Homo sapiens: one gene and its partners. The protein of the gene in region 1 interacts with the protein of each later gene in a biochemical or structural test. Each region holds a gene or a part of one and is shown in the gene's direction. Other genes may lie near its edges.

Region 1 (7,000 bases):
CTTTCTTATATTTTTATTGTGCTTTTCCTATTTGAGAACAAATTATTCTTTGTGTGATTTTCTGAAACTGCATAGGCAACCTGCCTTAAGTTTACTATGTGGTGTGAATGGCCACAATTAGGAAGCTATACCTTGGATTCTAACTTAAGAGGAGATATTAGTGGAATCTTTTCTTTTTTGAACTTTTGTGGTTTTGGTTTTTGGTTTTTTGGGGTGGCGTTGGGGGGTACAGAGTCTTGCTCTATCACCCAGGCTGGAGTGCAGTGGGGCGGTCTTGGCTCACTACAACCTTCATCTCCCTGGTTCATGTGATTCTCTTGCCTCAGCCTCCCGAGTAGCTGGGATTAACAGGTGTGTGCCACTATACCCAGCTAGTCTTTGTATTTTTAGTAGAAACGAGGTTTCACCATGTTTACCAGGCTGGTCTCGAAGTCCTGACCTCAAGTGATCTGCCTGCCTTGGCCTCCTAAAGTGCTGGGATTACAGGCATGAGCCACTGCACTGCACCTTGCCTCTTTTTTGAACTTTTGATTGAATCATGTCTTCTTCCCAGTCATGAAACTCCCTTACTTTCCTGGTCTTTTATTCCATAGGTTAATTTTTGTTGATTTTGGACTTTATTTATTATTATTTTTAATACTATGTTTTTTTTTTTTTCTGACAGAGTCTCACTCTGTTACACAGGCTGGAGCACAGTGGCACAATCTCGGCTCACTGCAACCTCCGCCTTCCAGGTTCAAGCAATTCTCCTGCCTTGGCCTCCTGAGTAGCTGGGACTACAGGCACGTGCCACCACACCCAGCTAATTTTTGTATTTTTAGTAGAGATGGGGTTTCACCATGTTGACCAGGCTGGTCTCAAACTCCTGACCTCAGGTGATCCACCCACCTTAGCCTCCCAAAGTGCTGGGATTACAGGCATGAGCCACCGCGCCTGGCCGATTTTGGACTTTACATAACTGGAATCATACAGCATACATTCTAGTTCTGTATTTTGTTCTAAATGTTTGGAATTCATTCTTTTTGGATGTAGTTGAAATTTTTTCATTCTTGTTGTGTAGTACTAAATGGAATCTTCTTCCATCTGAATCTTGTTTAACAAAGGCTATGCTGTGATGAATGTTTGTGGAAGAGACAAAATATAAAGGTCTTATATTTTATTTCCCTGGAGTTTAAGTTCTAAAGACATTCAAGAGTAGTCAGAGGACCTTTAGAGTTAAAATGATTCTTTGGACAAAATCTTAACTAGTGCCATATTCTTTCACCAGGACGAAAATGATGATGACGATGACTGGAACCCCTGCAAAGCAGCAGGGGTGTGCCTCATGCTTCTGGCCACCTGCTGTGAAGATGACATTGTCCCACATGTCCTCCCCTTCATTAAAGAACACATCAAGAACCCAGATTGGCGGTACCGGGATGCAGCAGTGATGGCTTTTGGTTGTATCTTGGAAGGACCAGAGCCCAGTCAGCTCAAACCACTAGTTATACAGGTGAAACTGAGGGATTTTTGGAGTAGAAAGTAGGATATTTATTGTTTAAACTTAAAGCATATCTTTATTTTTCAAAACAAAACTGTAAATTGTCATCTACAAAGATTATCTCTAGATACTTGTTTACTTTTAATGAGGGTAAAATATATTTCTTAGGTTTTTAATTACATAAGTCAGCATGATCCAGAGACATGTGAAAGAAGCCAAAAGAGAAAAGTCATCTTTAATTTCATTGCCCAGAAATACCACTCTTAACTCTGTATTTATCCTTGAAGCTTTTTCCTATGTGCATGTGTGTGCAACAGGCTCTTCCTGTGCAGATTGTTTTATAACTTGTTTCTTCATTTAATACTATGTTGTAAACATTTCCCAATAATTTTTTTTTGCACCTAGCACTGATTCCCCATAATTTTTAATAATGGCATTATTATTCTATTCTTTGGACAAAATGTCCTTTATGTAATGAAAATGTTCTTATGGAAATGTTGTGCTTGTTTTGCTATTACAAGTCGTGCCATTGCACTCCAGCCTGGGCAACGAGCGAAACTCTATCTCAAAAAAAAAAAAAAGAGTTTGTTATAGTTGAGTTTAGTGCTTAAAGAATTCAGTCTTCAGTCTTTCTGGATATAGCCAGATGCCATCATAGCTGCATCCTGAGAATTCTGAGTATCTGAGTAATTCTTTTTTTTTTTGAGGTAGGGAGGCGGGGGGATGGAGTCTTACTCTGTCACCCATGCTGGAGTGCTGAAGTGCAGTGGTGCAATCTAGGCTCACTGCAACCTCCAGCTCCCCAGCTTAAGCAATTCTCGTGCCTCAGCCCCCTGAGTAGGTGGGACTATGTGCCACCATGCCCAGCTAATTTTTGTATTCTTAGTAGAGAGACCGGGTTTCATCATGTTGGTCAGGCTGGTCTTGAACTCCTGACCTCAAGCAACTCCTGACCTCAAGTGATCTGCCTGCCTCAGCCTCCCAGAGTGCTGGGATTACAGGCATGAGCCATCATCATGCCCGGCCTCTATCTGAGTAATTTATTGCAGACTACTAAAAGCATTTACACCAAATTCTTAATATAAAACTCTAAACTGGAGTTTTGAAAGATATTTTCAAATATTTTGAAAGATGTTTCACACCATGTCCTGTAAAATTACAGAAGTATCTTGGTGACTTTTTTGAGTTAAGCCATCCATCAGTATTTCTTTCTCTGGGGTAGTAGTTAACATGAATTTTAATCTTTGTTTTGCTTTGCTAATAACTGTTATATTTTCAGGCTATGCCCACCCTAATAGAATTAATGAAAGACCCCAGTGTAGTTGTTCGAGATACAGCTGCATGGACTGTAGGCAGAATTTGTGAGCTGCTTCCTGAAGCTGCCATCAATGATGTCTACTTGGCTCCCCTGCTACAGTGTCTGATTGAGGGTCTCAGTGCTGAACCCAGAGTGGCTTCAAATGTGTGCTGGGTAAGGGATTTTCTTGCTGGTGAGAAAAGGAGCTTGCCTGCGCCACTGGCAAGAAAGTAGAAGGTGTGGGAGAGAAATCAATCTGCCTCACTGGAATGCTTTTTCTGATTTTCTTTCTAATTTATTCAATTAAAATGTGGGGGAGATTCCAACTGCAAGAGCCAGTGGGAACACTTGACTTATGGTTACTGGTTCCTGAACCACTTAGAACAGTCATGGTAACCCAGTGGGGAAACTATCTGGACTTGGGTTGCTTTCTTGAATTGCTTGGGGACAAGAAGTTTTGATTAAGGTAGAGAGTTTTTGGCTGTAAGAAGTATCATTGCTGAGTAGAGGGCAAGAGGGAAGGAAGGTAGGCAGCCTAAATGCTGAGTCAGTATAGGCTAATGTAATTGGTTAAGGGGAGGAAGTTCAAATAAGGAAGGAATGGGGCTAAACGTCTTTCTGTGAAAGGAAACAGAAATGAAATGGCAGGTATGGTTGAAAGTACTCTGCTGCTTAGAGAGTTGTCAGATTATCAAACAGGATGATGAGAGATGTCAGATTATCAGACAGGATTTCTGTGATTGGAAACAGAAGAAATGGCAGGTATTGGTGAAAGTACTCTGCTGCTTAGAGAGTTGTCAGATTATCAGACAGGATGAACAGGAAGTACAAATCAAATAAATAAATAGTTAGTTTAAAAGATACCTGTAAAATGCTGTCTTGAGATGACCTTGGCAGAAAAAGTTGGAAGTTCACTGACACGGCCCAAAGTATCTTAATGAAAAATGAGATAATCCTAAGGTGTGGGGTTCTTTCAGGATTAACATTGAACCTATGTGCATTTCAGGCTTTCTCCAGTCTGGCTGAAGCTGCTTATGAAGCTGCAGACGTTGCTGATGATCAGGAAGAACCAGCTACTTACTGCTTATCTTCTTCATTTGAACTCATAGTTCAGAAGCTCCTAGAGACTACAGACAGGTAACTGATATTTCACAGAAATGAGTGACGTCTTTGCATCCAAGTTCTATTGCCTTCTGTGTGGAGGATATCTAGCTTAATCATAGAAGCATAATGAGACAGGACAAGACTCTACCTTCTCTAGAGGAATTAAAAGAAACCCGCTGGGCGCGGTGGCTCACGCCTATATTCCCAGCACTTTGGGAGGCCAAGGCGGCTGGATCACCTGAGGTCAGGAGTTCGAAAGCAGTCTGGCCAACATGGTGAAACCCTGTCTCTACTAAAAATACAAAAAATTAGCCGGGCGTGCTGGCGCATGCCTGTAGTCCTAGCTACTTGGGAGGCTGAGGCAGGGGAATTGCTTGAACCTGGGAGATGGAGGTTGCAGTGAGCTGAGACTGCGCCATTGCACTCCAGCCTGGACAACAAGAGTGGAACTCGTCTCAAAAAAAAGAATTCCATGATTGATTGATTGGTTTGTTTAAAGATGGAGAAAGAAATGCAGATTCCACCTACCTTAGAATTGTTCAGTTTACAGCTGAAATCTGAATATAGTGTAATTTCTCTGCTTTCTTTGTAGAGAGTAATAGATCTAGAGAGGTTCCTTCATTTTGCAGCATTGACAGTTAACAGGAGTATTTGGTTACAAGAGAAATGATAGTACTCATTATGAATTTGATTGCCACACCAAATCAATAACTACCATTTTTATTTTATTTTATTAATTAATTAATTAATTTATTTTGAGACAGAGTGTTGCTCTGTTGCCCAGGCTGGAGTGCAGTGGCGCAATCTCAGCTCACTGCAACCTCCTCAAGCGATTCTCCTGCCTCAGCCTCCTGGGTAGCTGGGACTACAGGTGCATGCCACCATGCCTGGCTAATTTTTGTATTTTTAGTAGAGACAGGGTTTCACCATGTTGGACAGGATGGTCTCGATCTCCTGACCCTCGTGATCCACCTGCCTTCGCCCCCCAAAGTGCCAGGATTACAGGCATGAGCCACCATGCCCGGCCAACTACCATATTTTTATATAGGATGAAGAACTTGGGGTAAATACAGTTGACTTAGAAACAAGCTTTTGAAATGTTGTTTAAAGGGATTATAAGTTGGAGACAACCTTTAACAATTTATGTTTTGTATGAGCTATACCTAAAGTCATGAGCAAAGTAAACCTTCAGGAAGAGAGCTGAGCACAAAATCTTCCTTTTTTTTTTTTTTGAGACAGTCTTCTCTTGTCACCCAGGCTAGAGTGCAATTGTGCAATCTTGGCTCACTGCAACCTCCTGGGTTCAAGTGATTCTCGTACTTCAGCCTCCCGAGTAGCTGGTACTAAAGGTGCCCACCAACATGCCTGGCTAATTTTTGTATTTTTAGTAGAGATGGGGTTTCGCCATGTTGGCCAGGCTGGTCACAAACTCCTGACACCTCAGGTGATCTGCCCACCTTGGCCTCCCAAAGTGCTGGGATTGTAGGCCTGAGCCACTGTGCCCATCAAAAAAAAAATCTTCCATTTAACTAGTTCATGTCCATGCCTCTTTGAGATTATATATGAAGACATCTTTTTTAAATGAATGAAGAAAATTGGGGTATTTTTTTTTTTCTGGGACGGAGTTTCGGTCTTGTTGCTCAGGCTGGAGTGCGGTCTCGGCCCACTGCAACCTCCACCTCCCAGGTTCAAGGAATTCTCGTGCCTCAGCCTCCTGAGTAGCTAGGATTACAGGCACAAGCCACTACACCTGGCTAATTTTTATATTTTTAGTAGAGGTGGGGTTTCACCATGTTGACCAGGCTGGTCTCAAACTGACCTCAAGTGATCCGCCTGCCTCAGCCTCCTAAATTGCTGGGATTATAGGCATGAGCCATCACGTCTAGCCAGGAAAATTGGGGTATTTTCTTCATAGCACTTCAGACAACCTGTTAAATTGTTCACATGATTTTTTACCATTTCAAACCATTTTTTCCTCTATAATTTTAGCCCATTTCCAAAAGGGCCATTCTAAATTTTAACTGTCTGGAGACCATAATGAACATAGCCATTGGCTCAAAGGACTTGAAGATTTCATTCTTGGATATTGTGTTTTCAAACTCAAACCAGGTCTGCAGACATACCGGTTCCTGAGTTCTTATTTTTGGCAAGACATTGTCTATGTTCTTCCCTGTCCTTTTCATTTGAGGCTTTAAGATTTTCGCTGTGTTCTTTACAGACCTGATGGACACCAGAACAACCTGAGGAGTTCTGCATATGAATCTCTGATGGAAATTGTGAAAAACAGTGCCAAGGATTGTTATCCTGCTGTCCAGAAAACGACTTTGGTCATCATGGAACGACTGCAACAGGTTCTTCAGATGGAGGTGAGACCTAAGAGTGCCCCTGACTATGGGTGGGAATTGGGTAGTACTTTTGACACCTAGGTCTGTTTTCCAGACTGTTCTGTCTTTTTAGTGTTTAAGTATATATTTTCTCAGAAAGATAATAAAGCTTATACAAAAAACATTGCACCTTAACGTTAGCATTGTTTGTCATGGTTTACTCATATATGTGTTACACTATATGTATTATGGGTTTTTTGTTGCTGTTGTTTACTTTCCTATGTTAGTATTAGGGAAGATTATTAAATGGTCCCAGCAAAAGTGGAAGGTTTTCATGTAGAGTATGTTTTCTTATTTTCTTTGTAGTCACATATCCAGAGCACATCCGATAGAATCCAGTTCAATGACCTTCAGTCTTTACTCTGTGCAACTCTTCAGGTATGGTGGTGCCTTATGACTTAATAACTCCAGGTTGGAGAATTATTAGTATCTCAGTATAACAAGTTCGTGTACACACAGAACTCGAAAATGGTATAGATGATGCGGATCAGAAGCTGTTCTCAGAAGGCTTTGGTCTGTGATTGGTTGATTGGGAGAGGAATTCCCCACCTGCCTTACCTGTCTGTCTAGAAAGATTCAAATCCTACTTATTTACAGATGGTCTAGATGTAATCTTGATAAAATCAAACCAACTTGACTTCTCCTAATTCAACATACACTCCTCAGACCTCTCTTCCTCACTCGTTTGTTTCAACTAATGTCACTGTGTAGAGAAGGAAACTACTTAATGTGTGA
Region 2 (7,727 bases), on another chromosome or scaffold:
GGGCCATTAAAAACATCTTTTCTTCATTAATATCTAATGAAGAAATTTCTAATTTATGTATTGGTTCCTATAAAATACAGACCTTAGAGACAAATTCTTCCTAAGACCCCAGTATTAAGCTTTTTTTTTTTAAACTAATGATTGGTTTTATTAGATTATTTTTGTTTTGTAAGCCATCCTGTTTCTCTATACTTTGACTGTCAGGAGTCTCAGAGCTGTGTTCAATTTTTATAATTTTCTTTAGTCTCAACTATGTTAAGAATTATTTTATACGTAACCTGGAATTGCTGTCAGTTGTTTCTTGCATTATTTTCTTTATTCTCTGTTGCTCTCAATGGTCCTTTTACCTTTTCCCTTTTCCCTTTACATTTGAGAATAGGATTATATCTTATTCTTTGCATCTTCAGTGTTTTAGCACAGTGTTTGTTGAATTAATGATAAAATAGAGTTTTAATGATTTATGATGTCTGTGCTTTTAAGTCTACCAGATTGTTTTTAGATGTATGAGTACTGTGTATAAAATCAGTTAAGACCTTTGATTGGTCTTGCAAGTAAAGATGACTGACCTAGTGATAAAGATAACTCCTTGTTTTGTTTTAAGGTATCTTTGTACTTTGCATGGTGTTATGAATTTAGCCATAATAGGGAAGAAAACACTGGAAATGGTAAACAGTTAAATTAGCTGATTTGGGCTGATTTCTGTCTTTTGCTGCAGTAAGCAGGAGATGGCCTGAGGCCAACTGAGGGCCAGATAGGGCCTGCATTAGAAAATTTTGAGGTTGTACATTGGAAGAGTAGGGATGAAGACTGTGGGAATGTATGTTTCTTTCTTTCTTTTTTTTAAAGATGTTACAAACCTACAAAACAACATGAAAAAATGGTTCTGTCCAAGTGTTGTAGACTAATTGGGACAGTTCTTGAAAGCAGGCAGTAATCCAGAATGTGGATAATGGAGATAATCTCCTTCATATTAACAAGAATAATGCTGCCCTTCATATACAAAGATAAGTCTGCTTACTCATCATGATTGTTTTTCCAGCGTGAGGAGGGATATGTGCTGAGTCCATGAGTGCCTATATACTCTGTGAGCAACAAGGCAGGTTGGGGTCAGAATAGGCAGCTTGGGGTCAGAATAGGCAGCTTGGGGTCAGCTAGGGAACAGAAAGACCCGCTGAAAGTACTCTGACATCTATTGATGGGTCAGGTTCTGCATCAGGTGCTTTCACTTACTTGTTCTTGCAAAACCATTTTGAGGAGGTGATTACGTGTGCAAGGTGATTGGGTAACTCGCCTTACTTCACAAAGTAGTGGAGTTGGGATTCAAATAGGGCTGTTTGTACTGTGTTCACATTGATCGTTAAAGATTGGTTTTAGCCGTTCAGTCTCTTTGGCAGAACAAACTAGATGTAGTTTAACACCATGAAATAATACTGAAGATCTAATATAACCGTCGTGAGATTGTTCAAGTTCCTTGTTTTATCAACATTAAAAAAATAAAATTTTGGAATTAGAATACCTGAAAAGCAGCTGTTCCCTGTCCCAGCCTCTGCACTTGAAAAGCTACCATTTTCTTTCTTCTAGCTGTTTCCTCTTGTGTTTGCTTTCATATTTATAAATACAGTGACTTGCTTTTATTGCTATATCATGATATAGCAATTATAGATATTATTGGCTTTCGTCTAAGCAAGATGTTCCTTAGTGTTTCACATATATATTCACCTCACCTGCCATATGCACACACTGTCTCTACCATCCTCCAAATATAGTTATCACAGGTGTGTCTACTAAACCAATATTTAGTGTTTACAATATTGTAACTCTATAAATGTTCACAGCTGACCCATGTAGAGTACTGTGATATCATTTCTTCTCTTAATAAATTTTTGTTTTTCTACAAGTTAGTATTTTTTGTTGTTGTTTGCTTCATTTCCTGAGACAGCTAACCTGGAACCTCTTAATGCAATTAGGACTGGTTACTTTCTAGGCCTATTTCATAGTTGTTATCCAGGGACTTCTCTTTTCATCATCCTTAAACTTCTTTGCCCTCTTTTGTACTGGTTCCCCTGTTTACTGTTTCCTGTATTTTCTTTCTTGGTTTACTTATTTCCTTGGAGTACATTTTTTAGTAGCTTTCTGAGAAAGGATACATGGAAAACAAAAACTTCCTGACATCTTACATGACTGAAAAAAATCTTTATTCTTCCTTCGCATTTGATCAGTAATTTGTCTGGGTATAAAATTCTGAGTTGAAAGTAACTTCTACTTCAAGTTTGCAAGTCATAGTTCTATTGTTTTCTTTCTTCCAGGGTTACTCTTGAAATCCAAAGCCAATCTGATTCTTTGTTTGTATGTGATCTTCCTTTACCCCAATCTCTAGAAGCTTTTAGGATATTTTTAACCCTCAAAATTCCATGATGATGTGTCTAGGTATGGGTATTTTTTTGTTTAAGGGCATTCCATGGACCTTTATAAGCTGGGAGTTCATGTCCTTTAGTTCTCGAAAGTTTTTGTTATTATTTGGATGTTAGGCAAAAAGAATTTTAGAATGAATTATGCTTCTCAGTTCTTGTCACACATCAGATCGTACAAGGTCCTTTAAATTTTTATCTTAAATTTCTGAGCCCTACTTCTGTTACCTCTTTGTATAACATTGTGGTTGGTACATTCCTTGATTATATATGAAACATTGTAAAATATGTAGTGGAGCTGTGTATGTTTAGGTATTGTGTTATAGACCTTGCAAAGGTCTTTTTCTTTTTTATTCAACATTGATTTGGGGATCTTTCTGTTTTGTTGTAAGTATGTATAGTTGTGTCTAATGTAGAATTCTGTAATGCAGATCTACCACATTTTACTTTTCATTCCCTAGGAATTGATCCCTGAGTTGCCTTTCTGCTATTTCAAATACCCTGTGTTATATATACTCTTGTACATTATTATAGACCTGTATAGAAGTTCTCTAGGATATATACCCAAGATTGTGATTCCTTGGGCATAGAGTGGGAGAATTAGTGTATGTGCCTACTTGAGTGCTTGAGAGTTCTTTTTTGCTCACATGTTTGCCTTTACTTGGTTTTATCTTTCTTTTTTTTTTTTTTGTTTGATAGAGAGTCTTGTTCAGTTGCCCAAGTGAGTGCAGTGGCATGATCTTGGCTCACCGCAACCTCTGCCTCCTGGGCTTAAGCCATTGTTCTGACTCAGCCTCACGAGTAGCTGGGTTTACAGGGGCCCGCCACTACGCCTGGCTAATTTTTGTATTTTTAGTAGATACGGGGTTTCACCATGTTGGCCAGGCTGGTCTTGAACTCCTGACCTCAAGTGATCCACCCTCCTCGGCTTCCCAAAGTGCTGGGATTACAGGCGTGAGCTACCGCGTCCAGCCTCTCATTCTTATTTTATAGTATATTTGTGTTGTTTCATAGATGCTGTATTCTTTCTGGGGATATTAATGATAGTTTTAAAAATTTTGTTACCATTGTTGTCTTTTCTTTATTGAGGCTTTCCCCAGATGTCTGGTAGTCTTGTGGCTGTCCATTCATATTTAAGAATGAAGTGCCAAAAACTGAATTGGAAGCTCTATTAAGTGTGGCTTGTTGAAGGGTGAAGAGAGTAGCTGGTGGCCATTTTTTTTGTGGTGGGTGGAGGGCATATACTCATAGGTTTGTTTCTCTTGGGCTAGTCAGTTTCCCTGAGAGTCTCCAGTCTCTTGCCAGGAGAATGTGTGTCTGGCTGCCATGTTTTGAGAACTCATTTTAGAAAAGGAGCTTGGGTTTTTACTGTTGTGCTCATGTAATTCTGTTATCAATAAGGCACCTCACCCCCACCCTCACCTGCATTGGAGCACCCATTTGAAGGGATTACTGAAGGATGGTTGTCTGGTTGTGAAGAGTGGAGGAGGAAATCTGGGCATGTGATGGCTGTTTTGTAGACTTTCAACAAACCTTCTGATTTTGAGCCCAACTCCTCACTACCTTAAGGAGGGATAGTACCTGGATGATCTGTCTGAAGCATCCTGTTTGTGGGTAGGTAGTGTGAATCAGCTTGTTTCTTATTGCCTTCTTCGTTTGCAGGTTAGGCTTCAGAGTTTTCCACTTTGCTAGTGACATATAATTTGTCTATTTTATGGCTTCTTTTAGGTTTTGACACCATCTCTGATTCTTTTGCTTACCTATTCTCTTTATGCCGTGGTTCTGGTTCATTTATTTGAAAAAAAAATTTCTTTATAATTTTAGTATTCTACCATGTCTACCATTTTATTTCTTTACATAAACTCTTTGTTTTCTCCTCTGTTCATTTTTTCACAGCATTTGAATGACCACTGTGTGCCTATTGAAGATTAAAATTGAATTTCTGGCTTTGAGTTAATATGATATGGGAAGAAAAGTGCAGTCTATATGTGCTAATTCCTGATTTGAAATTTGAAAACCCTCATAAGTGTTCTTAAAACAGATATATTACAGTGGTTATTAAATTCATTAATGGATATGAATTGAATGAAGGCAAGTTTTTGCGATTAAAAATTTTTTTACTACTGAGGGAACGAACCCTTTATGTCATCTTCTGGAAAGATTTGTCTTTTTTTTTTTTTAACCCCCCAAAAAATCATTCAACTTTTAGATAAGAGATAATTTTTCTCCTTCATAAAGACCATAAAGATCAGAACTTCTGAAGAAATAACAGCATACTCAGTTGAAAAAATAGTAGTGAAAAGTATAGAAATTCAGTGTTTTAGGTAGGTTGATAAGCTTTATCATAGTAAACATATGCTTTCAGCTCTACTTTTTGAAAGTTTTTTTCTTGTATAATCAGTATATTGCTTATCACAGAAAATTTGGAAGATAAAATAATATTTCCATATTCAAATTTTATATGCTGATATCTTCTCTTTTCTTTTTTTTTTTTTTTGAGATGGAGTCTTGCTCTGTCGCCCAGGCTGGAGTGCAATGGCACAATCTCAGCTCACTGCAACCTCTGCCATCTGGGTTCAAGTGATTCTCCTGCCTCAACCTCCCGAGTAGCTGGGATTGCAAGCGCCCGCCACCACGCCCGGCTAATTTTTGTATTTTTAATAGAAATGGGGTTTCCCCATGTTGGCCAGGCTGGTCTCGAACTCCTGACCTCTGGTGATCCGCCCGCCTTGGCCTCCCAAAGTGCTGGGATTACAGGTGTGAACTACTGCGCCCAGCTATATTCTGATTTCTTAAGTTACGAAATATTTTTCGAAAGTATAGAGAATAGTGTAGGTTGGGTTTTTGTTCCCAGCATTCAGATTTTTCATGTTAGTGTTCTGTTTTCTCAATACATTGTGAACATTTCCTTTAACCAAGCCCTCATATTGGAACTTTTAGGTTTTTTACAATTTTTCACTAGAATAATCACACTGCAGTGAACAGTCTTACACATACTACTAGTTTTGTTTCCTTTATGTACATTCTAAAAGTGGAAGTATTCAATTCAGGGTTTGAGTTCTCCAGATCCTTGACAGATATTTTCCTTTAAGTGTTTTGATATTGAGAATGTCTTTGGAGAACTTCCCAGCTTGGGAACCTATAGATACTGGGAGTTGGGGGTCAGAATTTGGGGCAAAGGTTATGATAAACCTCTCAAAGGAAAACATTTGAAACTGGGCTGTGAAAGAAAATATGTATTGCCATTGGATTATTGGTTAGAGCTATAAGATGAGGCCAGAGATGAACACCTATGAATCATATGTCTGCCACATTGACTTCTCACAGGAAAAGCTTTATTGAAGGGTTTTTCAAACTTTGCTTTCATTGAACACTGAAATGCTCTTAATAAAAATAAAGCTACTCCTTAATTATCGTATAGGAAAAGAATGGGTAGGATATTTCAAATTTTAATTTTCTTTTCTAATTTCTATTAAAATATTTTAAACGGACCTACTATCGTTTGACTAGAAGCTGTTAACATCAATAATTTATATTTTCAAATGAACTGAACACTTTATACTTATACTCCACTTATTTAAATTCATAACTTTTTTGTAGTCATACTTTCTTGTAGTTTTGGTTTTTAATAGTAAATGCATATCATATACTTTCTAATAAAATTATGCCTGATTTATATGGTGGAATTAAGTATATTAGGATTTCAAGTTGTTCCACAAGAGTATTATGGATTTTAAATATTCAGAACATTTAGAATGTGTTTGAGATTTACTGATTAGGTGGGCTGACCCAGTGCACTGAATATATAACATCTTGAATATAATAAAAATATAAAAAGATCTACACTCATTGTTTTGGGTTTAGAGTGGTGGAGAATGGTATTGAATGAATCCAGACAAAAGGATCTTGCAGGACCAAGAAGTTTAGACTTGTTCTAAGAAGTGGTTAAAAACGTTGTAGTTCCTTATCCATTGAAGTGATACAGTGAAAAGGGTGTTGAGATTAATCTGAGGGCTGTGTAGGATGAATTGAGGAGCAAAGAGTCTGAGGTTAAGAATGCTGGTTTAGAGCTGTTGTAGTTATCTAGGTGTCAGTTGACACAGACTTGAGCCAGGCTGGTGGCAGTGGGAATAGATCGGATCAGATAAAATCAAAGACTTTGGATAGAATAAGCAAAATTTGATAATTGAGTAACTAGACATGAAGGAGAAAGTGAGGGGATCTGTCTTTGAAAGAGTGTGTTTCTATTTCACCACCAGTATTGCATCTTGTTTTTAAGTTTATTGCTTCTTTGGCTTTATTTCTCTAGAAAACAAGAGGAAATTTAGGTATAATGGCTTTAATTTTGAAGGCTTCTGATTCCTGAGAGGGTACTTTGAAAAGTAACTTACAATTTTTAATTAGTAGCTTAGGTGATAACACCTAAAAATATTTGCTTAGGATAAACTAATTTTCTCATACAATTACTTTGTTATTCCTCTTATTACAGACATAGAGATTTATTTCCTTTCTTTCCTATCAAAGCTATCTTCAGTCCAACTTCAGCCTTCATTTTCAACTGTATTTTACATTGTTTTAAAATAAAACTTTTGCTCTACTATAGTGATTTTCAACTGCAGATGCATATCAGAATTTGCTTGGATTTTTTTTTTTTTTTTTTTTTGAGGCATGCAGTGGTACAATCCTGGCTCACTGCAACTTCTGCCTCCCGGGTTCAAGCCATACTTATGCCTCATCCTCCCAAGTACCTGGACTCACAGGTGCATGCCACTATGCTGGCTAATTTTTGTATTTTTAGTAGAGGCGGGGTTTCACCATGTTGGCCAGGCTGGTCTCGAACTCCTGACCTCAAGTGATCTGCCCGCCCCTTGGCCTCCCAAAGTGATGGGATTACTGGTGTGAGCCACTGTGCCTGGCCCACTTGGGGATCTTAAAAGGAAGAAAAACCCAGAGGTGTCTGTCTGCTTCAGACACATTAATTAGACTCTTTAGAGGGACATTTGAGGCTTGTGTTTAAAAAAAAAAAGAGTCTCTCCCAACAGAACAAATGTAATCCCCTCTCCATCCTAAGAGGGGGCAACGAATCTCATTTATGGATACTGATGAGATATTTATGTTTTAAAAAATCTCTCTCTCTCTCTCACCCAAAGTCTAAATGCATCCATTGAAGTAATAGAGTGAAAGGAGTGAAACTTAAAAATCTCACCAGTATCCATAAATGAGATTGGTTGTCCCCTCTTGGGGTGGGAAGTCTAAATACACACATACATGCGTGTGCGCAGACACACGCACACACACACAGACAGTTTCTTAGAGCAG
Region 3 (7,553 bases), on another chromosome or scaffold:
ATTTTTAGTAGAGATGAGGTTTCGCCGTGTTGGCCAGGCTGGTCTTGAACTCCTGATCTCAGGTGATCTGCCCGCCTCAGCCTCCCAAAGTGCTGGGATTACAGGAGTGAGCCCCCGTGCCCGGAAACTTTTTTTTTTTTTTTTTTTGAGATGGAGTCTTGCTCTGTCACCCAGGCTGGAGTGCAGTGGCGCGATCTCTGCTCACTGCAAGCTCCGCCTCCTGGGTTCACACCATTCTCCTGCCTCAGCCTCCCGAATAGCTGGGACTACAGGCGCCTGCCACCGCGCCCGGCTAATTTTTTGTATTTTTAGTACAGACGGGGTTTCACCATGTTAGCCAGGATGGTCTCGATCTCCTGACCTTGTGATCCGCCCGCCTCGGCCTCCCAAAGTGCTGGGATTACAGGCTTGAGCCACCATGCCCGGCTGGGATACATTTTTAAATAATGCAAACAATACCATTTATTGAGGCCTTATCTGTGCCAGGTACTATGCTAAGTGCTTTAAATGTATTCTCTCTTTTAATGCTCACTACGACCCTGTAAGGCAAATGTGGTTGTTATCCCCATTTTATACAAAAGAAAATTGAGGTTCAGAGGGATTAGGAAATTTGCCCAAATTTCTTTTTCTTTCCTTTCTTTTCTTTTTTTTTTGAAGACAGACTTTCACTCTTGTTGCCCACGCTGGAGTGCAATGGTGCCATCTCAGCTCACTGCAACCTCTGCCTCCCCGGTTCAAGCAATTCTCCTGCCTCAGCCTCCCAAGTAGCTGGGATTACAGGCATGAGCCACCACACCCGGCTAATTTTTTGTATATTTAGTAGAGACAGGGTTTCACCATGTTGGCCAGGCGGGTTTCGAACTCCTGACCTCAGGTGATCCACCTGCTTCAGCCTCCAAAAGTGCTGGGATTATAGGCGTGAGCCACCATTCCCGGCAGGAAATTTGCCTAAATTTCTTTTTTTTTTTTTTTTTTTTGAGACGGAGTCTCACTCTGTGGCCCAGGATCGAGTGCAGTGGCTCGATCTCAGCTCACTGCAACCTCCGCCTCCCAGGTTCAAGCAATTCTCCTGCCTCAGCCTCCCAAGTAGCTGGGACTACAGGTATGTGCCACCACGCCCGGCTAATTTTTTTGTATTTTCAGTAGAGATGGGGTTTCCTTCTGTTAGCCAGGCTGGTCTCGATCTCCTGACCTCGTGATCCGCCCACCTCGGCCTCCCAAAGTGCTGGGATTACAGGCGTGAGCCATCCCGCCTGGCCCAAATTTCTTAATTAAATTAAACTGAATTAAATTAAATTAATAAATAAATTTAAACTGAATTAAATTAAATCTGCATCCAAATTTAAACCAGGGTTCTCTGACTCAAAGTCCAACACCTCTACTAATCCCCCACTGAAGAAAATAATTCACTCATTCGTGCATCAAATATCTAATGTGTACCTACTATGTGCCCTGCCTTAGGGACACCAAAATAAGTCAGTAGAAGAGAGCCTTAAAAATAATTGGGCTTGGAGATTAAAGGGCAAGAAATCAAATGTTCCAGAGGGCAGTTATGAAGCTACTGTAACTATCTAGGGAGAGTTAATGACTTTCTAAAGTCCAGCAAAGGCAAGGGAGTGTGGTTGTAAAGTAGGGGTGTTTTGGATGGAGGAGTTGGGGGAAGATGGCTGCAGTCAGTTGTTTAAAGTAACTTTACTATTTGGCCAACCATATATTGATTTTCTTCTTCCTTCAAGTATCTACTGAGCACCTACAATGTACCGTGTTTCTTCCATCCACTATCTTATTCCATCTTTACAACCCACCACCTTTTTTTTCCCCCAGTCGGAGGCTCCGTCTGTTGCCCAGGCGGGAGTGGCATGACTGTAATCACAGCTCACTGTAGCTTTAACCTCTTGGGCTCAAACGATCCTCCTACTTCAGCCTCCCTAGTAGCTGGGACCACAGGCGCTTGCCACCACACCTGGCCTTGGTTAATTTTTTGTATAGGTGGGGACTCACTATGTTGCCCGAGCTGGTCTCGAACTCCTGGGTTCAAGTGATCCTCCTACCTTGAACTCCCCAGTGCTGGGATTACAGGCGTGAGCCACCACTCCCAGTCTCCCATTTTTTAAACAAACAAATAAATCAATTATCTCTAATCCCTTGCCATCACCGAAAACCCAGATGGCTTTAAACTCATTTACATTTTAGGTAAAAGCCCAGTTCAATTTTGCATTCATGTCTCACAAAGGAGTAGTGGTGGAGGTTTTTTAAAAATTTTTTTTGAGATCACTCTGGAGCGCAGTGGCAGGATCTCCACTCACTGTAATCTCCGCCTCCCTGGTTCAAGCCATTCTCGTGCCTCAGCAAACCGAGAAGCAGCTGGGATTATAGGTGCCCACCACCATGCTTGACCAATTTTTGTATTCTTAGTAGAGACAGGGTTTCATCATGTTGGCCAGGCTGGTCTCGAACTCCTGGCCTCAAATAATCTGCCCGCCTCAGCATCCCAAAGTGCTGGGATTACAGGCATGAGCCACCAGCCCGGCCAGTATACGCTTTGCTTTCTGCGCACAGTTCCTGCTATGAGACTCTCAGTCACTAAACAGGTCTAGTTTCTAGAAAATGCCCACCTTTCACTCTTGTAATATCAGTTTTCTGCTAATGGGCTAGGCCCCAGAAGGACTTCCAAGAAGAGCCCAAGGCACAGAAAACCGAGGGTAAATAATAGGATACAAAGTGACAAGGCTTTAACAGAGGCCTGCCCAAGCATTAGCTCAACTCGCTGTGAAAGCTTGGCAAATGTATCACTGAGAAGATGGGAACATTTGAAATACCCGTCCTTTAAGAATAAGTAGGGGTTCGGCTGGGCGCGGTGGCTCACGCCTGTAAGGCCAGCACTGTGGGAGGCCGAGGCGGGCGGATCACCTGAGTTCCGGAGTTCGAGACCAGCCTGGCCAACATGGTGAAACCCCATCTCTACTAAAAATACAAAATCAGCTGGGCGCGGCGGCGAGTGCCTGTAATCCCAGCTACTCGGGAGGCTACGACAGGAGACTCTCTTGTACCTGGGAGGCGGAGATTGCAGTGAGCCGAGATCGTGCCACTGCACTCCAGCCTGGGAGAAAGAGGAGACAGAGCAAGACTCCATCTCAAAAAAAAAAAAAAAAATTAGTTCATGGGCGAGGTGGCTCACGTCTGTAATCCCAGCACTTTGGGAGGCCGAGGCGGGTGGATCACTTGAGATCAGGAGTTCGAGACCAGCCTGACCAACACAGTGAAATCCCCGTCTCTACTATAAATACAAAAATTAGCTGGGCCTGGTGGCGGACGCCTGTAATCCCAGCTACTTGGGAGGCTAAGGCGGGAGAATCGCTTGAACCCGGGAGGCAGAGGTTGCAGTGAGCCGAGATTGCGCCAATGCACTCCACCCTAGGCGACAACGCGAGACTTCATCTCAAAAGAAAAAGAAAAAAAAAGAATTAGGGGTTCTCCACGTGCAGCTGGGAAAGACGTTCCAACAATCCTCATTTGTACCAGGCCCTTTGGTGGGCCAGTCCCTTAGGGCATCTCTAATGCTCCTAATGTCCATCCTAGAAATTCAGGGAGGGAAAGAAAGTGCTGGGGCGAGCATGGGTCAGGAGAGAATAGGGTCAGGATTTAGGGCCCTGAAGAAGCCTCGGGCAAACTCTTTGGACAGACAGACCTTCCAAGAGGGCCCTCAGGCTCCGCACGTGGTCTGGGCGGGAAGTGCGGGCAGAGAGACTAGGAAGCCTTCCCAGCAGCGCCGGCGGACCGGGGCAAGGAAAGGGTCGAATAGTTACCATGCCATTCTGGGGCCGTCCCTCTGATTGGCCCGAGCTCCCTCAGCCCGAGTCGCGGCGCTCCAAGGAAGGGGGCGGAGTCTCTATGTTGCGTCACCACCCTTCCCGACACCCCGCCGGTGCTTCCCAATCTAGCCATTCACAAGCCCACTTCGAGAGGCCCTGTGTGACGTCACGACACGCTCCCGCCAACCGCGGCGGCGAGGGGCGGGACTCCACGGCCCTCTCACCGCTCCTACCCTGTGCCTCCCCGAACTCCTTCTGCCCCTCCTCTTCCCTCTCGCCCCTTCCCCCTTCAGTTCGGTTTCAAAAGACGCGTTGCCCAATGAATAACAGGGTCGACCCAGAGTGGCGGCCGCGTCCACCAATTCGCGGACGGCGAGGGCGGAGCGTCCGCAACGAGCCTCTGACGCCGGGCGGCGTGTGACGCAGTCGGGCCCTCTGCGCGCTGCGCCCGAAGCGGCGGTCGGTGGCAGGGGTGGTAGCGGCGGCGGCGACGGTTTCGTGGGGGCCGCGCGCTGCTCTGTGAGCGGCGGGTGGCAGCAGGGGACTCCTGACACTTCCCCTTCCCCACCGAACCGCGGTAAGTCGGGAGCCCGAGCTGCAGCGGCCGAGACCGGCAGGTTTCTCCCCCCTTCCGGGCGGGCGGACGCGCGGGGCGTCTCAGGGCCTCTCCGCTTCGAAGTCTAGCGCCGCTGCGCGCACCTTCTGGCCTGAGAGAGGGGCGGTGCTGAGGACCCGGGGGCCCGGAGCCCGGGAGGCCCGGCTTTGGAGGCCCTGGGAGAGAATGGACATCAGTGGGGTCTAGGCCTGGAGGTCTCCAGTTGCTGCCCACGCGAGTGGGTGTCTGTCTGGTTGTACTCATTCATTCAGTGGTGTAAGGACCCCACGGTGGGCTGGCCTTTCCGGGGTCAGCGCCTTGAAACCCTGAATACGGTCTGCCCCGCACTTCCTTGACCGTCATGTGGGACTGGGCTTTATTTGCCTTGGCTTCTCCATAAGGGAAGTGGGCACCCCGAGGATTAGGGTGAGTCCGAAGTTTGGGAGATTTTTAAGATAATATCTGAGAATAGGAGTCGGTTCGGTGGAGCAAAAGGTTCTTTTCTATTTTCCCACGTGTTCAGTGTAAAGCCAGATGAGGAGACAGATTGAGTTTCTGGATTACTATAGCCATAAGGACTTTAGAAATTGTTTAAGTCAATCCCCCTACCTTACATCAGTTTTGTAGATGGGGAAACCGAGGCCCGGAGTAACAGGCAGGATTAGCCAATGCCAGATTTTTGACAGTCTAAACAGTTTTCTACTACCTCACCCTCCCTGGATATTTCAGTCTCCCATTATTAAGAATTCCCTTTAGGAGGTCGGTGCGGCATGGACATTAGGTAGCTAAACGTAGATGTAGTCTTCACAGCGTTTTCCGTTTAGTTGCTACCAGCTCTGTTCACGGGTAAGGTGGAAGCTTCGTTAGTGGTACCCTAACCTAGAGCTTGAGAACTAAACTTAGAAGATGGTTAAAGAACGTCAGCGTTGTTATGTATCGGAAACAAATCGGTAAAACTACAAGCCATTGTTTCCCTTTCTAAATCTGAATTTTTTGACTTGTGTCAGCTGATGAGGACTCGGAGTCAGTTAGGGATTTATAACAGTACTGGAATAGAAAGCAGGAAATATTGATAAGACTTAGAAAGCCAGGTAGGAGTCCGTTTGTAGTAGTTGTACCTCGGAACTCATGGCTCCTTTCAGGTACAGAATTCAAAGTGAAGTATTATAGTAGAATAAGGTGAGGAAATAAAACTCCGTTTTGGAGGAAGAAGCTAACTGGAATAAAGAGCAAAAAGAGAGCAGTGATCATTCCCTGTGACGGTCTTACAAATTCGAAAAGAAACTCGAGTTAACTGGGTTACAGTATGTTTACCTGGTGGAGGAAGTTAGGGTATTTAAAAACCAAAACTAGAGGTTGGACAGGATAAAGGTACTGGGAAATACTTGGGTAAAATTATTCTTTTTGACTCTTCAGATTTGATGAAATTGAATTAGTTGACACTTGGTTCTGTACACATCAGTAAGATTGTTACTTTGTTCTTGTATAGATGACAAAGCATAAACTCAGAACTAGTAGTGCAGAAGAGAACCGTAGTCTAAATAGTAAAGCGTGAACAGGGTATGTTTTCCGTGACATTTTCTCAGTTCAGGCATCACCCTCTTCTGGGAAGCTTTTCTTGGCATTCTCTTCTCTGCAAGCTTCCATAACACTTATTTGATATTTCTATTTATAGCACATATCATTTTTATTTTAGCTGTTTTTTTAATTAGGCTGGTAAAATATTTTCATCTTATCTTTGTTGTCCAGTTGCTTGCCACATAGTAGGCCCTCAGTAAGTGTGTTTACTTGAATGAATAGACAAATATGGAGGAGTTATACCTAACAGTAGTCAATAGAGAGGCTCCTGAAATATGGGGCCCAGATAAGATAGTTCCTGCTGTTTATATGTTATGTGATACTTTGGTCCCTGACATTTATTTGTTTATTTATTTATGAGATAGGGTCTCACTCCATCACCCAGGCTAGAGTGCAGTGGCGCAATCTCGGTTCACAGTAGCCTCTACCTCCTGGGCTCAAGCAATCTTCCCACCTCAGCCTCCCAAGTAGCTGAGACCACAGGTGTGCACCACCATACCCAGCTAATATTTTTTTGTATATTTTGGGTAGAGACAGGGTTTCGCTATGTTGCCCAGGCTGGTATCGAATTCCTGGGCTCAAGCCATCCCCCACCTCGGCCTCCCAAAGTGCTGGGATTACAGGTATGAGCCACTGTGCCCAGCCAGTACCTGACTTTATGTCTACTAGGTCCTAGATAACTAAGAGCAAGTAGAATTTTTAAGGAACTAAATTTACGGCTTTGAAAAAATTATATTATTTTCTTGTAATATGATTTATGTGGTGGTAGTTAACCTGGAAAGTAAAGAATGATGGTACTAATGTTTAATTTCCAATAATGAGACTATGCAGTTATGTAATTTGTTGAAAGGTTAGGGAACTAAGAAACTCAGAGATTTAAGGATAAGTATTGGCTGAGCATGGTGACTGACTACTGTAATCCCAGCACTTCAAAGGTCAAGGCAGGTGGATTTCCTGAGCCCAGAAGTTCAAGACTAGCCTGGGCAACATGGGGAAACCCTGTCTCTACGAAAAATACAAAAATTAGGCAGGTATGGTGGCATGCACCTGTACTCCAGCTACTTAGGAGGCTGAAATCAAAGAAACATCAGAGCCTGGAAGATTGAGACTGCAGTGCTGTGATTGCACCACTGCTTTCCAGCCTGGGAAACTGCGTGAGGCCCTGTCTTAAAACAAAGGCGTGGTGTGGTGGTTCACGCCTGTAATCCTAGCACTTTGGGAGGCCGAGGCGGGTGGATTGCCTGAGCTCAGGAGTTTGAGACCAGCCTGGGCAACATGGTGAAACCCCATCTGTACTTAAAAAAAAATATGAAAAATTAGCTGGGCGTGGCAGCATGCGCCCATTGCCCCAGCTACTCGGGAGGCTGAGGGAGGAGAATTGCTTGAACTCGGGAGGCGGAGGTTGCAGTGAGCCAAGATTGTGCCACTGCACTCCAGCCTGGGCGACAGCGAGACTCTGACTCAAGAAAAAAAGAAAAGAAACAAAACAAAACAGTATGTATTAGAGGCAAGGTAGGTAAACATTTCCTGAGAACTTGGTGCATTCTTTTTGTTTGAAATTGACCGTA
Region 4 (8,205 bases), about 20 Mb from region 1:
GGCACCCATCCACCCATCTACCAGCAACAAGTAGACCAAATGGAAGGTGAAACATGAGTTTTGGTGGAGAATTAGGGATTGCTGCCACACTCAAATCAGAAAGGGCTGTATTTGGCTGAGCACGGTGGCTCACACCTGTAATCTCAGCACTTTGGGAGGCTGGGGTGGGCAGATCTCTTGAGCCCAGGAGTTCTAGACCAGCTTGGGCAACATGGCAAAATCCCATCTCTACAAAAAAAAACAAAAATTAGCTGGGCGTGGTAGCATATGCTTGTAGTCTCAGCTACTTGGGAGGCCGATGTACGAGAATCACTTCAGCCCAGGAGGTTGAGGCTGCAGGGAGCTCTGATCGTGCCACTGCACTCCAGCCTGGATGACAGAGCAAGACCCTGTCTCAAAAAGAAGAAAAAATTGAGAAAGTGGTGTGTTTGAGGGATGTTGTATAGTTCACAGAACTGAAACATGAGTTTACAAGACGGCCTAGAAAGACAGTAACTAAAGGGCCTCAGCCTCAGTAGCTGGTGGTCCTATGTCTTTCAGCCAGCTCAGCTCCAGGCCCCTTTCTTTCTTTCTTTGCATGTTTTAACTCAACATTCATATTTTGAAGGAAGATAATCTGAATGGATTTTTTTTTTTTTTTTTTTTTGAGACAGCATCTCACTCTGCCACCTAGGCTGGAATGCAGTGGTACAATCTCGGCTCAATGCAGCCTCCACCTCCCAGGCTCAAGCCATCCTCCCACCTCAGCCTCCCAAGTAGCGGGGACTACAGGCATATACCAACATGCTTGGCTAATTTTTTATTTTTATTTATTTATTTTTTTAGACAGAGTGTCACTCTGTTGCTCAAGCTGGAGTGCAGTGGCACAATCTCAGCTCACTGCAACCTCTGCCCCTGCGTTCGAGCGATTCTTGTGCCTCAGCCTCCCGAGTAGCTGGGACTACAGGCACGAGCCACCGCGCTTGGCTAATTTTTGTATTTTCAGTAGAGACAGGGTTTTACCATGTTGGCTGGGCTGGTCTTGAACTCCTGACCTCAAGTGACCCACCTGCCTCGGCCTCCCAAAGTGTTGGGATTACAGGCGTTAGCCACTGCTCCCAGCCTCTGCTAATTTTTTTTTTTTTTTTAATTTTTGTAGAGATGGTGGTTTGGAGGAGGGCATCTCGCTATGTTGCCCAGGCTGGTGAATGGATATTAAGAACTGAATGTTTGCATCCCCCTCAAAAATTCATATGTTGAAAACCTAACTCCCAGTATGATAGTATTTGGAAATGGGGCCTCTGGGAGGTTGAGATGAATTCATGAGGGTGGGGCCCTCATGATGAGATTAGTGTCCTTATAAAAAGAGCCATCAGGCCGGGCGCAGTGGCTCATGCCTGTAATCCAAGCACTTTGGGAGGCTGAGGTGGGTGGATCATGAGGTCAGGAGTTCAAGACCAGCCTGGCCAACATGGTGAAACCCCATCTCTACTAAAAATACAAAAATGAGCCAGGTGTGGTGGCATGCACTTGTAATCCCAGTTACTTGGGAGGCTGAGGCAGGAAAATCACTTGAAACCAGGAAGCAGAGGTTGCAGTGAGCTGAGATCGCGCCATTGCACTCCAGCCTGGGTGACAGGGCGAGACTCCATCTAAAAAAAAAAAAAAAAGAAGAGACACCAGAGAGCTTTCACTCTCCCTTCTCTGTGCTAAAATGAAGAGATCATGCTAGCACACAATTAGGCGATGGTCATCTGGACGCCAAAGAGGGGGGCCCTTCCTGGAAACTGACCACTCTGGCACCCTTATTTCAGATTTCGTGATCCAGAAATGTGAGAAAAATAAATGTTTGTTATCTAAGCCTCCCAGCCTGTAGTACTTTGTTATGGTAACCTAAGCGGACTATGCTAGTGGACTAACACATCAGCTAAAACTTGGTCATAAATGATAGGACTTTTTTTTTTTTTTTTGAGACGGCGTCTTGCATTGTCGCCTGGGCTGTAGTGCAGTGGCACCATCTCAGCTTACTGCAACCTCTACCTCCCAGGTGTAAGTGATGCTTGTATCTTAGCCTCCTGAGTAGCTGGGACCACAGGTGTGTGTTACCACACCTGCCTAATTTTTTATATTTTTTAGTAGAGACAGGGTTTTGCCATGTTGGACAGGCTAGTCTTTTTTTTTGAAATGGAGTTTCGCTCTTGTTGTCCAGGCTGGAGTGCAATGGTGTGATCTCGGCTCACTGCAACCTCTGCCTCCCAGATTCAAGCAATTCTCCTGCCTCAGCCTCCCAAGTAGCTGGGGTTACAGGTGCTTGCCACCACGCCCAGCTAATTTTTTGTATGTTTTAGTAGAGACAGGGTTTCCCTTTGTTGGCCAGGCTGGTCTTGAACTCCTGACCTCAGGTGGTCTGCCCACCTCAGCCTCCCAAAGTGCTAGGATTACAGGTGTGAGCCACTGTGCCCGACGATATCGTATCTTTCAAAGGCAATTTTGGGCATTATACTTCTGTTTCAGGTTGTTTTTAGGTGCAAGTACAGAATAGTGGTTCAGAACACAGATCCTGGAACCAGACTGCTTATGGCTGAATCCTGTCTTTGCCATTTACTGGCTGTGTGACCCTGGAACAAGTTACATAAACACTTGTGATTCAGTGCTCTCTTTTGTGAAATAGAGCAAATAACAGTACTACCTCACAGTTGTGAAGATCAAGTGTATTAATATATGGTAAACACTCAGAACACTTCTGGGCACATAGTAGTCAGTATTTTCAAGCAAAAGAAACTCAACTTGGCTTGGTATGGTGGTCAGGCCTATAATTCCAGCACTTTGGGAGGCTGAGGTGGGTGGATTGCTTGAGCTCAGGACTTCGAGACCAGCTTGGGCAAAATAGTGAAACCCTGTCTTTACAAAAAATGCAAAAATTAGCTGGACGTGGTGGTGTGTACCTATAGTCCCAGCTATTTGGGAGGCTGAGGTGGGAGGATGGCTTCAGCCCAGGAGGCAGAGGTCGCAGTGAGCTGAGATCGTGCCACTCCACTCCAGCCTGGGCGACAGAGCTAGACCCTGTCTCAAAGAAAAGAAAAAAAAGAAAAAAAAAAAGAGAAGAAACTCAACTTGACAATACAAAAGAAATGTGTATCGGATCTCCTACCTGCAAACCTTCAGAGATAGAGCAGGTCAGACCTCTCAAGGTTTCCCTACAGTTTTCTTATTCAGATTTCTAGGACTCACATCCCTTAGTTCAGAAGAACAGAGGCTGCTTTCCTACCTCCAACCAGTAAACAAAAGGCAGAGGCTGTCCAACTGGATGAATTTAGGTCATGTGCCTGCCCCTGAACCATTCTCAGTAGCTGAGAGAATGCCACACAGTGATTGGTTTAGGGGTGAATTCCTTCCACATTCTTGCATTTAGGGGGATGGGATTATGCTGATTAAGAGTAGGTCCAACCCTTTATGAACTCTGGCTTTACGATGAATGAGGCTGGCATTAATGCCTGCAAAAATGGACAAACTTGCTGTTTGAATTTATTTATAGTAAGAAATAAACCATGAAAACTTTTCTAAAATGTAATCTTTTAGAACACAAAAAAATTGCAGAAACAAAAATGGCCCAGAATCCTGATGCTCTGTTGACCATCTTTGTTTTGTTTGTTCGTTTGAGCATATGGCAAAAAATGCAAAATTCAGAAATGTGTAATGAGCATAGAATGTTACTATAACAATTGAAAAAACTTGAACACACACTACATACTAAACAACAGCATGAAATTTCAGTTTTTCTGAATTTGATGACTGCAGTGTGGTTATATAAGAGAATGTCTTTTCTTAGGAGAGACACCGTGAAACAGAGGAAAAAGGACATGATTCTGAAACTTTCTCTTAAAGTAACATATTAAAATCACACATATGTACACGCGTGCATATGTATACATATATATGTATAGAGAAAGCAATAGCAAATGTGGCAAAATGTTAAGATTTGGCAAATCTGGATAAAGATTTGCAATTCTGCTGCATTTGAAATTATTTAAAAATAAAAAACTTGAGTTTTTGGAGAAACAGGCATAAGAAACCTTTTGTTTCCATATTTGCGGCTTCTATACAGTCTTTTATGATGCAATTAAAAAAAAACTAAACTAAAAAATATAACACAAATCTTCCCTCCCATAGTAGCCAGAAACCCCCGCCGAGTACTTTGGGTGTCATAATAGGAAAAAAATGCAAAGCAATATGTTTTTCTATAAAGATTACTTATTTACTAATTAGAATTTTTTTATTTTCATGAAGATCAACAACAAAGTTTTTAAAATAATGACTTAGAGAATCATTTTGTGGTATTTGTTTAAGGCTGTCGCCCAGGAAAACGCCCAAGGACCATGCACGCTTCAACCCTATGGAAACACGAACGGCCCAGGGAACCGCCCCTTCGCGCTGCTTGACGGGATCTGGAGTCCTCCCGCTCCGCCCCGCCAGGCGCTCAGGGACCGCCCGGCCGCTCCCTCACCGCCCGGCCGCTCCCTCACCGCCCGGCCGCTCCCTCACCGCCCGGCCGCTCCCTCACCGCCCGGCCGCTCCCTCATCTCGCGATGCCATCCTCTTTTTTTTTTTTTCTTTCCCCCCTCCCACTCGCCCCCAAGCCCTATGACTCCCTCCCCTCCCAACGTGTTTTTCAAATCCACCAATGGGCACACAGCTTAGGCTCGAACCAGCCAATCGGAATGCGGAGTCACCGGGAAATTTAAATCGCGCCGGCCGGCTGCACGAGCCACACGGTCTTTGAGCTGAGTCGAGGTGGACCCTTTGAACGCAGTCGCCCTACAGCCGCTGATTCCCCCCGCATCGCCTCCCGTGGAAGCCCAGGCCCGCTTCGCAGGTACAGACTCAGGCGGCGGCCCGGCCCGAGCGCTAACGGCTTGCCCGTGGGCGGCGTTCGCCTTTTGGGTTGGGGGAGGGAGGCCCCGGGTCCACGCCGAGCCTGGCTCTGCCTCCCGCGTTGACTAGGCCTCGGGGGCGACGTTCATTGACCAGGCGGCTGAGTTTCGCGGGGTCTGCGGGTTTAGGGCGCCGACGCTCTGCAAACGGCAGCGGAGGCCTTAACGCGTCGCGGCCGGGAGAATCGGAGCGAGCCAGGCTTGAGGGCGAATGTCCCGGGAGGACTTGTGGCGGCCCTGGTTTCGCCTCCTCCTTTCTCGTTGCATCTTCCCCGGCGTGGGGGCAGGGGCTGGGGGTGGCAGTTGGGAGCACCGTCTCTGACACCTAGGCCCCGGGGGTGGCTCTGCCACCAAGTCGTAGGCGAGCGTAATGAAAGCAAAGATAGCAAATTGTAAGGAGGGCTTTGACTTTTGTCATCTTCTGAATGACGCACAGCTGATGTCATCCTAATTAAGCGCATTCACTCCTAGTCTCTGGAAATGCAAATCAAATATGCGAGATGCGGCACTGCATTTTTAATGTTGACCATAATGTAATGATGAAGCAAATTTTTATTTAATTTTCGAGTCTGCACCTATTTTGGCCAAGTAAAGACAGTAAAATAGGGAGAGCCTCCTGAGGATCTGAATTTATTGCCCTGGCACATAATTTTTAGCTGTAAGTTGACTTGGTTCCCCTACTTTGTCTTGAATTAACTATTAGGGACTCTGGAGTATCGAACTAGGCTGTCAGAAACGGTGGATACATGTGGCTAGTCCAAATTGAAATACGCTGTAAGCTTAAAGTACACAAAAGATTTCAAAGATGGAGTATGGAAAAAGAATGTAGAAGATGTCAGTTATTTTATATATTGATAACACGTTGAAATACTATTTGGATATGTTGGGTTAAGTAAAATACATTATTAAAATTAGTTTCACTTGTTTCTTTTCTCCTTTTTAAAAATATGGCTACTAGGAAGTTTCAATTTATATAGCTTGCATTCTATTTCTGATGGAGAGCCCTCTCCAGGAAGTCTCAGCCCTTTAGAGGGAAGGGGGACACTTCCCCTTTGGGTAAAGCTATTTCATAGTGCCGAAAACATGATGATCCCCCCTCTAGTATACAGGTGTGGATTCAGTAGATGCTTGATAATTCAGTTCTTATTTGGTACTATTATTGACAAAGGAAAATGATAAAGGAAATATTTTTCTCTTCCCCCATCTTTTAGCTTTCTCCCTTTGTCTCATAACCATGTCCACCAACGAGAATGCTAATACACCAGCTGCCCGTCTTCACAGATTCAAGAACAAGGGAAAAGACAGTACAGTGAGTACCTTCTGTTGCTTTCCTGTGGTGGTATTTAAATGGGAAGACATTTGGAAAGGGGTGAAAACTGAGGTATTTAAAAAAAAAATGCCCTCACTTAGCAACAAAAACTGGTGTGATAGGTGAAACGGCATGTTATCTTTTCTCAAGGAAATGAGGCGTCGCAGAATAGAGGTCAATGTGGAGCTGAGGAAAGCTAAGAAGGATGACCAGATGCTGAAGAGGAGAAATGTAAGCTCATTTCCTGATGATGCTACTTCTCCGCTGCAGGAAAACCGCAACAACCAGGTAAAAAATGTATTTTAGTTTATGAGTTACGTGAAATCCAGAAAATCAGTAGGGACTTTTCTTAGAAATTCAAGTAAACTTAACATTTCTAGTCTTAACGGTTTTAACTATCTGTGAACATCTTTTTCTCTGTTTGCAATTAGTAATTGTCTTCTTTCCTGCCTTCTGTAATCCACTGAAGCTGATTTAGGATCTTCCTTTAGCTCTGACCTTCCTTCAGACTTCCCTGCATTTCTAGCTACTAGCTGGGTACCTTGGCCTGACCAGTGTGTCCAGAGCCAGCCAGTTTCTGGTTTATTTCTTCTTTTTTTTTTTTTTCCCCCGAGATGGAGTCTTGCTCTGTTGCTCAGGCTGGAGTGCAGCAGCACAATCGGCTCACTGCAACCTCTGCCTCATGGGTTCAAGCAATTCTCCTGCCACAGCCTCCTGAGTAGCTGGGATTATGGGTGCGCATCACCACGCTTGGCTAGTTTTTGTATTTTTTTGTTTTTGTTTCTTTGAGACAGAGTTTTGCTCTGTCGCCCAGGCTAGCGTGCAGTGGTGCGATCTCCGCTCACTGCAAGCTCCATCTCCCGGGTTCACGCCATTCTCCTGCCTCAGCCTCCTAAGTAGCTGGGACTACAGGCGCCCGCACCCTGTCTGGCTAATTTTTTGTATTTTTAGTAGAGACGGTGTTTCAACATGTTAGCCAGGATGGTCTCGATCTCCTGACCTCGTGATCCACCCGCCTCAGCCTCCCAAAGTGCTGGGATTACAGGCGTGAGCCACTGCCCGGCCTGTTTTTGTATTTTTAGTAGAGGCGGGGTTTCACCATGTTGGCCAGGCTAGTCTTGAACTCATGACCTCGTGATATGCCTGCCTTGGTCTCCAGAAGTGCTGGGATTACAAGCGTGAGCCACCAGGCCCTTCCCGTTTTTGGTTTATTTCTGCCTTTTTTGGTATTCTCTATGTTTTTGTATTTGTCACCAGCTTTGTTCAGGACTTTCCTTCTGAAATATTTACAGTAGCCTCCTAATTTATCATATCCTTCTTTATGCCATATACTATTTTCCTGAAATTTTTCCTGAAGTACTGCTTTAGACCTGTGTTTTCGCTCCTTAAAATCCATACTCCAAATTGCTTGAACCTGGGAGGTGGAGGTTGCAGTGAGCCAAGATCATGCCATTGCACTCCAGCCTGTGCAACAAGAGTGAAACTCCGTCTCAAGGAAAAAAATAAAAATAAAATAAATCCATACTCCAGCTGGGCATGGTGGTTCATGCCTGTAATTCCAACACTTTGGGAAGCTGAAATGGGAGGATCACTGGAGGCCAGGAGTTTGAGCCCAGCCTAGGCAACATAGGAAGACCTCGTCTCTATAAAAAGTAAAGTTAGCTGGGTGTGGTGGCGCCGGCCTTTAGTCCTAGGTATTCAGGGGGCTGAGACAGAAGAATCACTTGAGCCCGGGATTTTGAGGCTGCAGTGAGCTGTGATTGCACCACTGCACCCCATGCTGGGTGACAGTGAGACCCTGTCTCTAAGAAATCCCTACTCTATGAAGGCCTTCCATAAAGTAGACTTAACTTAGATTTTCAAATTTATCTTTCATCTGGGCCCTTTCCTACATGTTTTTCTCACAATATGCTTCCTTTTTTTTTTGTTTTGAGACAAAACCTTGGTTTGTTGCCCAGGCTGGAGTGCAGTGGTACGATCTTGGCT

Evidence for each region.
Region 2: the proteins of KPNB1 (region 1) and KPNA1 form a complex in vitro, tested with the Homo sapiens proteins (6 studies listed by BioGRID and IntAct, with this or other methods).
Region 3: the proteins of KPNB1 (region 1) and NUP98 form a complex in vitro, tested with the Homo sapiens proteins (3 studies listed by BioGRID).
Region 4: the proteins of KPNB1 (region 1) and KPNA2 form a complex in vitro, tested with the Homo sapiens proteins (6 studies listed by BioGRID and IntAct, with this or other methods).

The regions. Positions count from the first base shown.
Region 1 is NC_000017.11:47,666,919-47,673,918, forward strand, and holds part of KPNB1 (importin subunit beta-1), read left to right. Parts: intron 1-1,267; coding exon 1,268-1,492; intron 1,493-2,759; coding exon 2,760-2,951; intron 2,952-3,783; coding exon 3,784-3,914; intron 3,915-6,099; coding exon 6,100-6,247; intron 6,248-6,571; coding exon 6,572-6,643; intron 6,644-7,000.
Region 2 is NC_000003.12:122,504,619-122,512,345, reverse strand, and holds part of KPNA1 (importin subunit alpha-5), read left to right. Parts: intron 1-7,727. UniProt on the Homo sapiens protein: Functions in nuclear protein import as an adapter protein for nuclear receptor KPNB1. Binds specifically and directly to substrates containing either a simple or bipartite NLS motif.
Region 3 is NC_000011.10:3,794,236-3,801,788, reverse strand, and holds the start of NUP98 (nuclear pore complex protein Nup98-Nup96 isoform 1 precursor), read left to right. Parts: upstream 1-4,234; 5' UTR 4,235-4,389; intron 4,390-7,553. Other genes in the region: acyltransferase PGAP2, read right to left, coding at 3,807-3,809. UniProt on the Homo sapiens protein: Plays a role in the nuclear pore complex (NPC) assembly and/or maintenance. NUP98 and NUP96 are involved in the bidirectional transport across the NPC. May anchor NUP153 and TPR to the NPC.
Region 4 is NC_000017.11:68,030,989-68,039,193, forward strand, and holds the start of KPNA2 (importin subunit alpha-1), read left to right. Parts: upstream 1-4,746; 5' UTR 4,747-4,852; exon of another isoform or gene 4,853-5,568; intron 5,569-6,121; 5' UTR 6,122-6,144; coding exon 6,145-6,219; intron 6,220-6,369; coding exon 6,370-6,507; intron 6,508-8,205.